Regions from separate parts of the Homo sapiens genome. Here region 2 is linked to region 1. The links come from fine-mapping of genetic effects on gene expression. A gene starts in region 1. The other region holds a variant in brackets. All regions are shown on one strand. Distances are from middle to middle.

Evidence for each region. PIP is the estimated chance that this variant, and not a neighbour inherited with it, causes the effect. A credible set is the group of variants that fine-mapping cannot tell apart.
Region 2: its variant is the best candidate, but not a certain one, in a credible set for the expression of LINC02296 in subcutaneous fat (GTEx, PIP 0.63).

What each region holds. Positions count from the first base shown.
Region 1 is chr14:87,610,872-87,615,274 of GRCh38, reverse strand. LINC02296 (long intergenic non-protein coding RNA 2296) reads left to right here and starts at 1,812. Exons shown (of 16, transcript XR_007064294.1): 1 at 1,812-1,960.
Region 2 is chr14:87,738,658-87,743,060 of GRCh38, reverse strand. No RefSeq gene overlaps it. Among named protein-coding and RNA genes, the nearest start is that of LINC02330, 86 kb to the right of the region's middle. The variant C/T (reference allele first, on the strand shown) is at 2,390.

The sequences.
Region 1 (4,403 bases):
AAAAGCCGAACATCACTGATCATTAGAGAAATGCAAATTAAAACCACAATGAGATAGCATCTAACACTAGTCAGATGGCTATTATTACAAAGTCAAAAAATAACAGATGCTGGTGAGGTTGTGGTGAGAAAAGGATGCTTATTAGTTCAGCCATTGTGGAAGACAGTGTGGCGATTCCTAAAAAACCTAAAGAAGACAGAAATACCATTAACCCAGCAATCCCATTACTGGATATATACCCAGAGGAATATAAATCATTCTGTTATAAAGACACATGCATGCGTATGTTCATTGCCAAACTATTCACAATAGCAAAGACATGGAATCTATCTAAATGCCTGCCAATGACAGACCAGATAAAGAAAATGTGGACCATGGAATATTATGCAGCCGTAAGAAATGAATGAGATCGTGTCCTTTGTGGGTACATGGGTGGAGCTGGTAGCCATTATCCTTAGGAAATTAACACAGAACAGAAAACCAAATACCGCATGTTCTCATAAGTGGGAGCTAACTGATGAGAACACATAGACACAAAGACGGGAACAACAGACATTGGGGCCTTTCAGAGGGTGAAGGGTGAGAGGAGGGACAAGATCAGGAAAAGTAACTACTGGGTACTAGGCTTGATACCTGGGTGATGAAATAATCTTTACAACAAACCCCCATGACACAAGCTTACCTATGTAACAAACCTGCATTTGTACCCCTGAACTTAAAATAAAAGTTGAAAGGAAGAACCCCCCTGCCTAAAAGTGATGTTCCTTCTGAAAGTAGGAGAGGCTGGTTTGGAACAATGAAATTAGAAAATATGGTTTCATTACCTTTCAGCCAAAGGTCACTTTAATTGGGCAACTTTATTTTAATTAGAAGTTTTTAGGGTCTTGCTGTTCCCAAAATGTTGGTCTTCAAGAAGGTTAATATTTCTGTAATATAGGTAAATTCCAAACTGGCCCTTGGTTGGATATTCCAGTAAAATAAGAGCTTACTGAGCCCCTGCTCTGGACACAGTATTGTGCTGGATTCTATGGGAGATCCAGGCAGTGTGGAAGAAATGGTCTACAATTCAGGATCATAACAGCCGACACAGTAGGGGGCTGGATGAATCCAAGATGCTTTCCTGTATTTATTACTTCCTGAGGGATTTTTCTGCACAGAAAGGTAACTGGAAGATGTAACTCACTAGTTTTCCAAATAATGACTCATAGGGTTAAGACTGGAGTCACAATGCCAGAACCATATTTCTTTTGTTCACACTCTGAGGGGTGTCGTAAATATCACAAACTATTGACTTTTCACTACCTGTTTTCTCTTTTTTCTGGTTAATGATGCATCCAAGTTGGCTTAATGGACAAAGTTACTCACTAATCACCAGGATAGACAAGTAAACAAAAAAGATCTACAGTAAAAGTATAGTGTGGGGAAAATAAATTGGGGCTTTGGTTGAAGTACGCTAAATATAAGTCAATGGTGGGATGTGGCAGGCAAAAGAGATAACGCAATCTGGAATTACTAATGCCCACTGTCTGAAGGAGGGAAGTGTTAGACCAGTGGCTCTCAATATCTTTAGTCACTGATGTATTTGAAAATATGTAAGCTACGAAACTCTCCTAAGAAATAGTCATATACATATACAAATTTGAACAGACTCTTACAGATTAAATGTTCTTACCTCACCACAATGTCCTGTCAATATTGAATTAATTTCATATTAATCATGTCCTATATATAGATGTACAGGCACTGTCCATGCCTATGAAAAAATAACCAGTCTCCTGTTCTCTCCACCCACCTTAGAGTATGTAGGTGAGTGGGTTCTTGCATCATAGTGATTCTAAATGACTAGAAGTGAAGGGTCTGTCTGGCACAGCAGTTGGGGACCAGTACTGAGATTTCAGGACTTCCGATATGACCGTCTTTGTGGATCAGGCTGCCTTTACATTCAAGGTCGGAAGCAGAGGTGAGGATAAAATTCAATAGCTGCTAACTGCATTGCAGTCAATAGACCCATAAAGTAGGGGGGTTATGTTGGAATTTACTAGATAATGAGATGCATCCTAGAATGTTTAGGGGAAAGTATATGGATGTATAGAGTTAACTTTGAAATGCATCAGAAATAAGATGGATGGATGTATAGACAGTAGAGTAAATGGTTAGATAATTGATAAGCTAAAAATGTTAATGGTGAAATCTAAGTCATGTACACTGTAAAATTCTTTCATTTTTCTGTTCCATATTAAAAGTATAGAGAAATATAATTTGGAATTCACTCAGCCAAGTCAATCCCAATGGCAGTAACTAATTCAATGGAAATATTCCATCACTGTGATTATTTCCAGGAAATGAAACTTAACTCACAATAATTAATGCTGATTGTGCTTGTCATTAATCTTTTTGGAATCTGTCTCACTCCATTTTCTCAGTTTCGTATGACAGCCATTCATAGAGAATTGGGTTTTATAGAGCAACACTTTCTCCTCATGCTTGAAGAAGGTGGCTGTAGTGGTGGGAAATGTTCTGTGTGGAGGGCATTTGCTGTTCTAATTTTCTCAAGGGGCAAAATGTAATGGAAACATAATAGAGTAAATGCTCATGGATGTAAAGCGTTTTTAAAAAGTTGCAGTTTTATGTGTTTCTATCTTTCTTGTATTTTTTTTAAGATGGAGTCTTGCTCTGTTGTCTAGGCTGGAATGCAGTGGCCCATTCTCGGCTCACTGCAACCTCCGCCTCCCATGTTCAAGGGATTCTCCTGCTTCAGTCTCCCAAGTAGCTGGGATTACAGGAGCGTGCCACCACACCTGGATAATTTTTGCATTTTTAGTAGCGACGGGGTTTCACCATGTTGGCCAGGCTGGTCTCGAACTCCTAACCTCAGGTGATCCACCTATCTCAGCCTTCCAACGTGCTGGGATTACAGGCGTGAGCCACTGTGCCTGGCCAGCATTTTTTGGTGTTTATTTATAGCATAATTCATTTGCTTTAGATCAAGATAAATAATACCAGCCATTTCTATATGTAAGTCATTCTGTCTCTTCTGGACCCAAAGTATATTAGTTATACCGTCCCTGTGCTTAGGCTTACTCAGTGCTTAGGTCAACAACCTGTTGGCTGTTTTATTGCTTTGTGTTTCTTAGCAGAAGTGTGTGTGTGTGTGTGTGTGTGTGTGTGTGTGAGAGAGAGAGAGAGAGAGATTCTGTCCTCCTTGCCCTGGAGCCCATCACCTGTACATTTAATTTTCATTGCATGTAATGATAAAAGACAGTCCTTTGTTATTTAATTGAAAATAAACCTACTTTTGCTTTATTCCATGACACAATTTTTAGAATTCCGTATGACCTTTTTTTTTTGGAGTGGGGGATAAATTTATACTTAGAGGAAAGTCACAAAAATAGTACAGAGTTCCCAAACATGCTTCACCTGCCTTCTCTAATGCTGACAAATGACATAACCATTGTATAATCACTAGCATCAGGATATTGATGTGGTTACAATAGTGTTAATGAATCCATGGACTTTATTTGTATTTCACTGATCTCCCCACAAATATGGTTCCCTTTTTCTGGTCTGCGATTTAGCCTAGTATCTCACGTTACATTTCGCTGTTGGGTCTTTTCTATACAGTAGTGTCTCTCGTTTCACTTTGCGCTATTTCAGCTACCTGCGGTCAACCATGGTCCAGAAATATTAAATGGAAAATTCCAGAAACACACAATTCATAAGTTTTAAACTCAGTGCCCTTCCGAGAAGCATGATGAAGTCTTGCATCGTCCGACTCCATCCTGCCCAGGATGTGAATCCCCCCTTTGTCTGCCATCTCCACATGGCTTATTCCACCACCTGTGAGTCACACAGTAGCTGTCTCAGTGATCAGATCAACTGTCGCTGTACTGTAGTGCTTCTGTTCAAATCACTTTTTTTTTTTTTTTTGAGATGGAGTCTCACTCTGTCGCCCAGGCTGGAGCGCAGTGGTGTGCTCTCAGCTCACTGCAACATCCGCTTCCCGGGTTCAAGTGATTCCCCTGCCTCAGCCTCCCCAGTGTGTGCCACCACACCCAGCTAATTTTTTGTATTTTAGTAGAGACGGGGTTTCACCATGTTGGCCAGGATGATCTCGATCTCCTGACCTCGTGATCTACCTGCCTCGGCCTCCCAAAGTGCTGGGATTACAGGCATGAGCCACTGCGTCCGGCCTCAAGTCACCTTTATATTTAATAAGGGGCCTCAAAGTGCAAGACGAGTGATGTCGGTAATTCAGAATTGCCAAAGAGAAGCCAGGAAGTGCTTCCATCAAGAGAAAGGATGAAAGTTTGCAACTTTATAAGAAAATTTTAAAAATCATATGCTGAGGTTGCTAAAATCTTCACTAAGAACAAGTGTTTCTTTTGTGAAATTATGAAGGGTAT
Region 2 (4,403 bases), 130 kb before region 1:
ACCCAGCTTACAGTGGCAGGATATCAAAGAAAGAAATGATCCACATGGACACCGTAGAATGTTCTGACAGCATCCAGGGTGCCTGCTCAGTTCAGAGTTTGCCTGCAGAAGAAAAAAGTTCAGAGGAATGGGACTTAACAAGGGGCCTCCTACCTGTGGATTACAGCAGTTTTTTTTGTAGCCCAATAGCTGAGCAAACATGTGCTCACCTCTGGTGAGAGACCACTCACCTGTGCTTGTCCTTCCTCTTCCATTTCGTCCCAGCATGATACGATCATTTCTTTGCTCACTAATGCACTTAGCTTCTTAGAGGGGCCAGAAAAGGACTGTTGTAAGAGGAAGGGAAGGGATTTTTGCCCCTTCTGGTTTGTCCTTAACATTTTCATTACTGTGATTAAAAAACAATTATATGCAATGTAAAATACAATATTATAAACATTCAAAATAATTCCCAAGTACATAAATACAAAGTGAAAGTTCCCCTTCATGCCCCTGCTTGATCCCACATTCCCCTCCAGAGATAACCACACATCATAGCAGTTTGTGGTACGCCTTGAATCCATTTAGCCACAAATTCTAATGTATAATATTCTTTTTTCAATGTACACAAGTGGAGTGACACTGTTTATATTGCTTTTGTTATTTACAGTATCTTAAAAATTTTTCTCTGCCATGAAATGTATTGTCAATATGCAATACAAACCGTTTGTTATAACTGTCTTAATATTTCAGTTATAGATATATATTATAATTTGTTTGATAATTCCTTTATTTACAACTTAAAAAAAGCCTTAGATGAAGAGCCCTACAAAATTTTTTTGTATTTTCTCAGCCTTTTAATTTTCTAGTTCCTGCTTTTTCTTAATATGCTAGCCTTAAAAATGGGCTCCCAAATATGTCCATGGCCCTAGAACCTGTGAATGTTACCTTACATGGCAGAAAGTACTGTGTAGATGTGATTTAGTTAAGATTCTTGAAATGGGGAGATTATCCTAGGTTATTTGGGTGAGCTCTATGTAATCACAACAGTCATTGTAAAAGGCAGGCAGGAGGAGTCAGAGTGAGAGGTGAAAACACTGTGATGATGAAAGCAGAGACTGGAGTGATGAGGCCCCAAGCCAAGGAATATTGGCTCTCCTGGAGCTTCCAGAAGGCCTCAGCTGTGCAGACACCTTGATTCCAGCCCCATGAGACTCATGTTGGTCTTCTGCTGTGTTAAGCCACTAAGTTTGTGGTGATTTGTTATGGCTGCATAGAACACTAGCACACTTGGCTTAAATGGTTCTATCTTTGAATACATGGTCATACCTTCTTACCAATGCTAAAAGATACTTTTGGAAAAATAATCTTGACTGTCATACAGATGTAGAAATGAACACATACTAGAGATTTGATTCATGAAGGATCAGGCAGAGATAATTACCAGTTCAAATAAAGAAGGCCAAGCAGCACAAATTTACATGGAGTAAGAAATGTTGAAACAAAACTGTTTTTTTTTTTTTTTCTTCACAGAGGGAGTGAGAGAAGTCAAACCTCTACCAGACTAGACAGAATTTGCATGTCTATCTCTTACCTGTAAGTTACAGAGTTATCAAATATCTCAAAAATAATAAAAGTTGAGAATCAGATAATTGCATGGGTTATCTAGACAATAAATGATTTTCCATTGAAACACAATTTTTTCCGTACCATTATCATTTTAAACCAGGGATTGGTAAACTACAGCCTATCGACCTGTGGGCCAAGTCTGGCCTGCTGCTTGTTTTGCACAGCAAATAAGCTAAAAATAGTCCTTATTGATGAACATTTGCAATTGATCTGATCATAAGGAACACAAACTTTGAGTCCCAAGTCAAGTGAAAGGTTATCCCCAAAACAAAGAATCCCGTTTTTCTCATTAGTAGACCTGTATTACAAAAATTTATACTTATCAGTTGTTATTATACTTTGAATTTTGTTAATAAAAATCTAATTAAAATGTGTTCTTTCTTGTTATGTATGTATGTATTTTGGATTTTGCTTCATCACCTGAAGAGCCCAAGCTATTTATTATCTGGTAATTTATAAAAAAAGCTTGCCGACCTCTGTTCTACTTTTTTTTTTTTTTTTTTTTTTTGAGACTGAGTCTTGCTCTGTTGCCAGGCTGGAGTGCAGTGGCGCGATCTCGACTCACTGCAACCTCTGCCTCCCAGGTTCAAGTGTTTCCTCTGCCTCAGCCGCCCAAGTAGCTGGGACTACAGGCACGTGCCATCACACCTGGCTATTTTTTTGTATTTTTTTAGTAGAGACGGGGTTTCACCATGTTGGTCAGGATGGTCTCGATCTCCTGACTTTGTGATCTGCCCACCTCAGCCTCCCAAAGTGCTGGGATTACAGTAGGCGGGAGCCA[C/T]CGCACCGGGCCTACATCTTTATTTTGTTAGTTTTTCCTATTTATTTTATATTCACATCTCAGTATATTGGTTTGCTGCTTAATTACGAAGCATACTTATTTACCCAAACTGTTGGATAATTTCTATCTATTGTCTCTTGTTGTCCCATGAGTCTCCAACAGGCTGTCTGATGACAGGTGCCATCATCTGGGGTGTGGGGGACGAGGGGACGGTTACAGTGAACCCACAGAACAAAAGGGTCAGATTTTTAGCTTTTCAAATATGAGGAAAACTGAAGGATTTGGAAAAGTACATCATGAAGAATGATTGGTTCTCATCCCCTGGGTTAAAGTTTTGGGCTTGGAGAGGGAGAAGGGTAAAGAGATGATACAGAGAATATGATAAAGATGGGGGGCTGGTGGCTCCTGCGATGAGGGAATGAATCCCATGTGCAGGGACTGTGTGGACAGGAGTAAAGCCCCTGGCCAGGAACCCCCTAGTCTCCCTTCCCAGCCTGTTTCTAGTGCTGGGGAACCCAGGGGAGAAAAGTCACCGCTTGTGGATCACCTGATTTTCACTGTATTTCATTTCTTGCCCCACCAAGTTGAGAACTGCCTCAGTTGATCTTCTAGCCCACCTCCTCATCCTGTCATCAGCACTCACTCATGAGCCATTAACCATTAAATCTGACTATTCTGTGTGGCTATCCCAGCCCCTTTTGTTGTTTTTCCTCACAAAGTCATTCCCCAAAACTAGGACAGGACTCTCCATATTTTCAGGAGGTTGTGGGAAAGAAAATGTCCATCATACCCATGAGCTTATCTGAATCAACTCGAGCTCCTTCCTGACTTCTCAACAGATACAAATCCCATGGGGCTGGCCCTCCACCAAGCCTTTCCTATTTTTACTCTCTCTATTAGTCAGGGCTCTCCAGAGAGACAGTGTCAATGGGATATGGATCGATATAGATAGGTAGATAGATAGATAGATAGATAGATAGATAGATAGATAGATAGATGGATAATAGATAGATAAGAGGCTTACTAGGGGAATTGGCTCATGCAATTATGGAGGCTGAGAAGCCCTACTGTATTCATCTGCTTTTACACTGCTGATAAAGACATACCCGAGACTTGAAAATTTACAAAAGAAAGAGGCTTAATTGGACTCCGAGTTCCATGTGGCTGGAAAGGCCTCACAATCATGGTGGAAGGCAAGGAGGGGCAAGTCCCATCTTATGTGTATGGCAGCAGGCAAAGAGAGAGCTTGTGCAGAGAAACTTCTATTTTTAAAATCATCAGATCTTGTGAGATTCACTCACTATTATGAGAACAGCTCAGGAACCACCCGCCCCCATAATTCAATCACCTCCCACCAGGTTCTTCCCATGACAGGTGAGAATTGTGGGAGTTACAGTTCAAGATGAGATTTGGGTGGGGACACAGCCAAATCATATCACCTATGATAAGCCATTTGCAAGCTGGAGAGTCCGGCATGCCTGCAGCATGGCTCAGTCTAAGTCTGAAAGCCTCAGAACCAGGGAAGCTGATGATGTAACCCTCAGTCTGAGGCTGAAGGCCTGAGAACATGGGGAGGCCCTTGGTGCAAGTTCTACAGGCAAAAGGCCAGAGAGCCTGGAGTTCTGATGTCCAAGGGCAAGAGAAGAAGGATGTTCTAGCTCCAGGAGAGAGAAAGAAGGAACTCACCATTCCTCTGCCTGTTTGTTCTAACTGGGCCCCCAGATGATTGGATGCCTGTCCACACTGAGAGCAGATCTTTCCCACTCAGTCTACCAGCTCACATGCCAATCTCCTCTAGAAACATCCTCACAGGCACACTCAGAAATAATGCTTTGCCAGCTCTCTAGGTTTTGCATAATCCAGTCAAGTTGACACCTAAAATCACACTACCTCTATTCATAAGTCTGAGAGGGATCCATTTTACCTGTGGCCCATTGATTTAAACAGAAGGTGAGGGGCAGCTTAATGGATGCTTGAGTTGTAAAGGCCAAGACTTGCCTTTTAACTCTTGTCT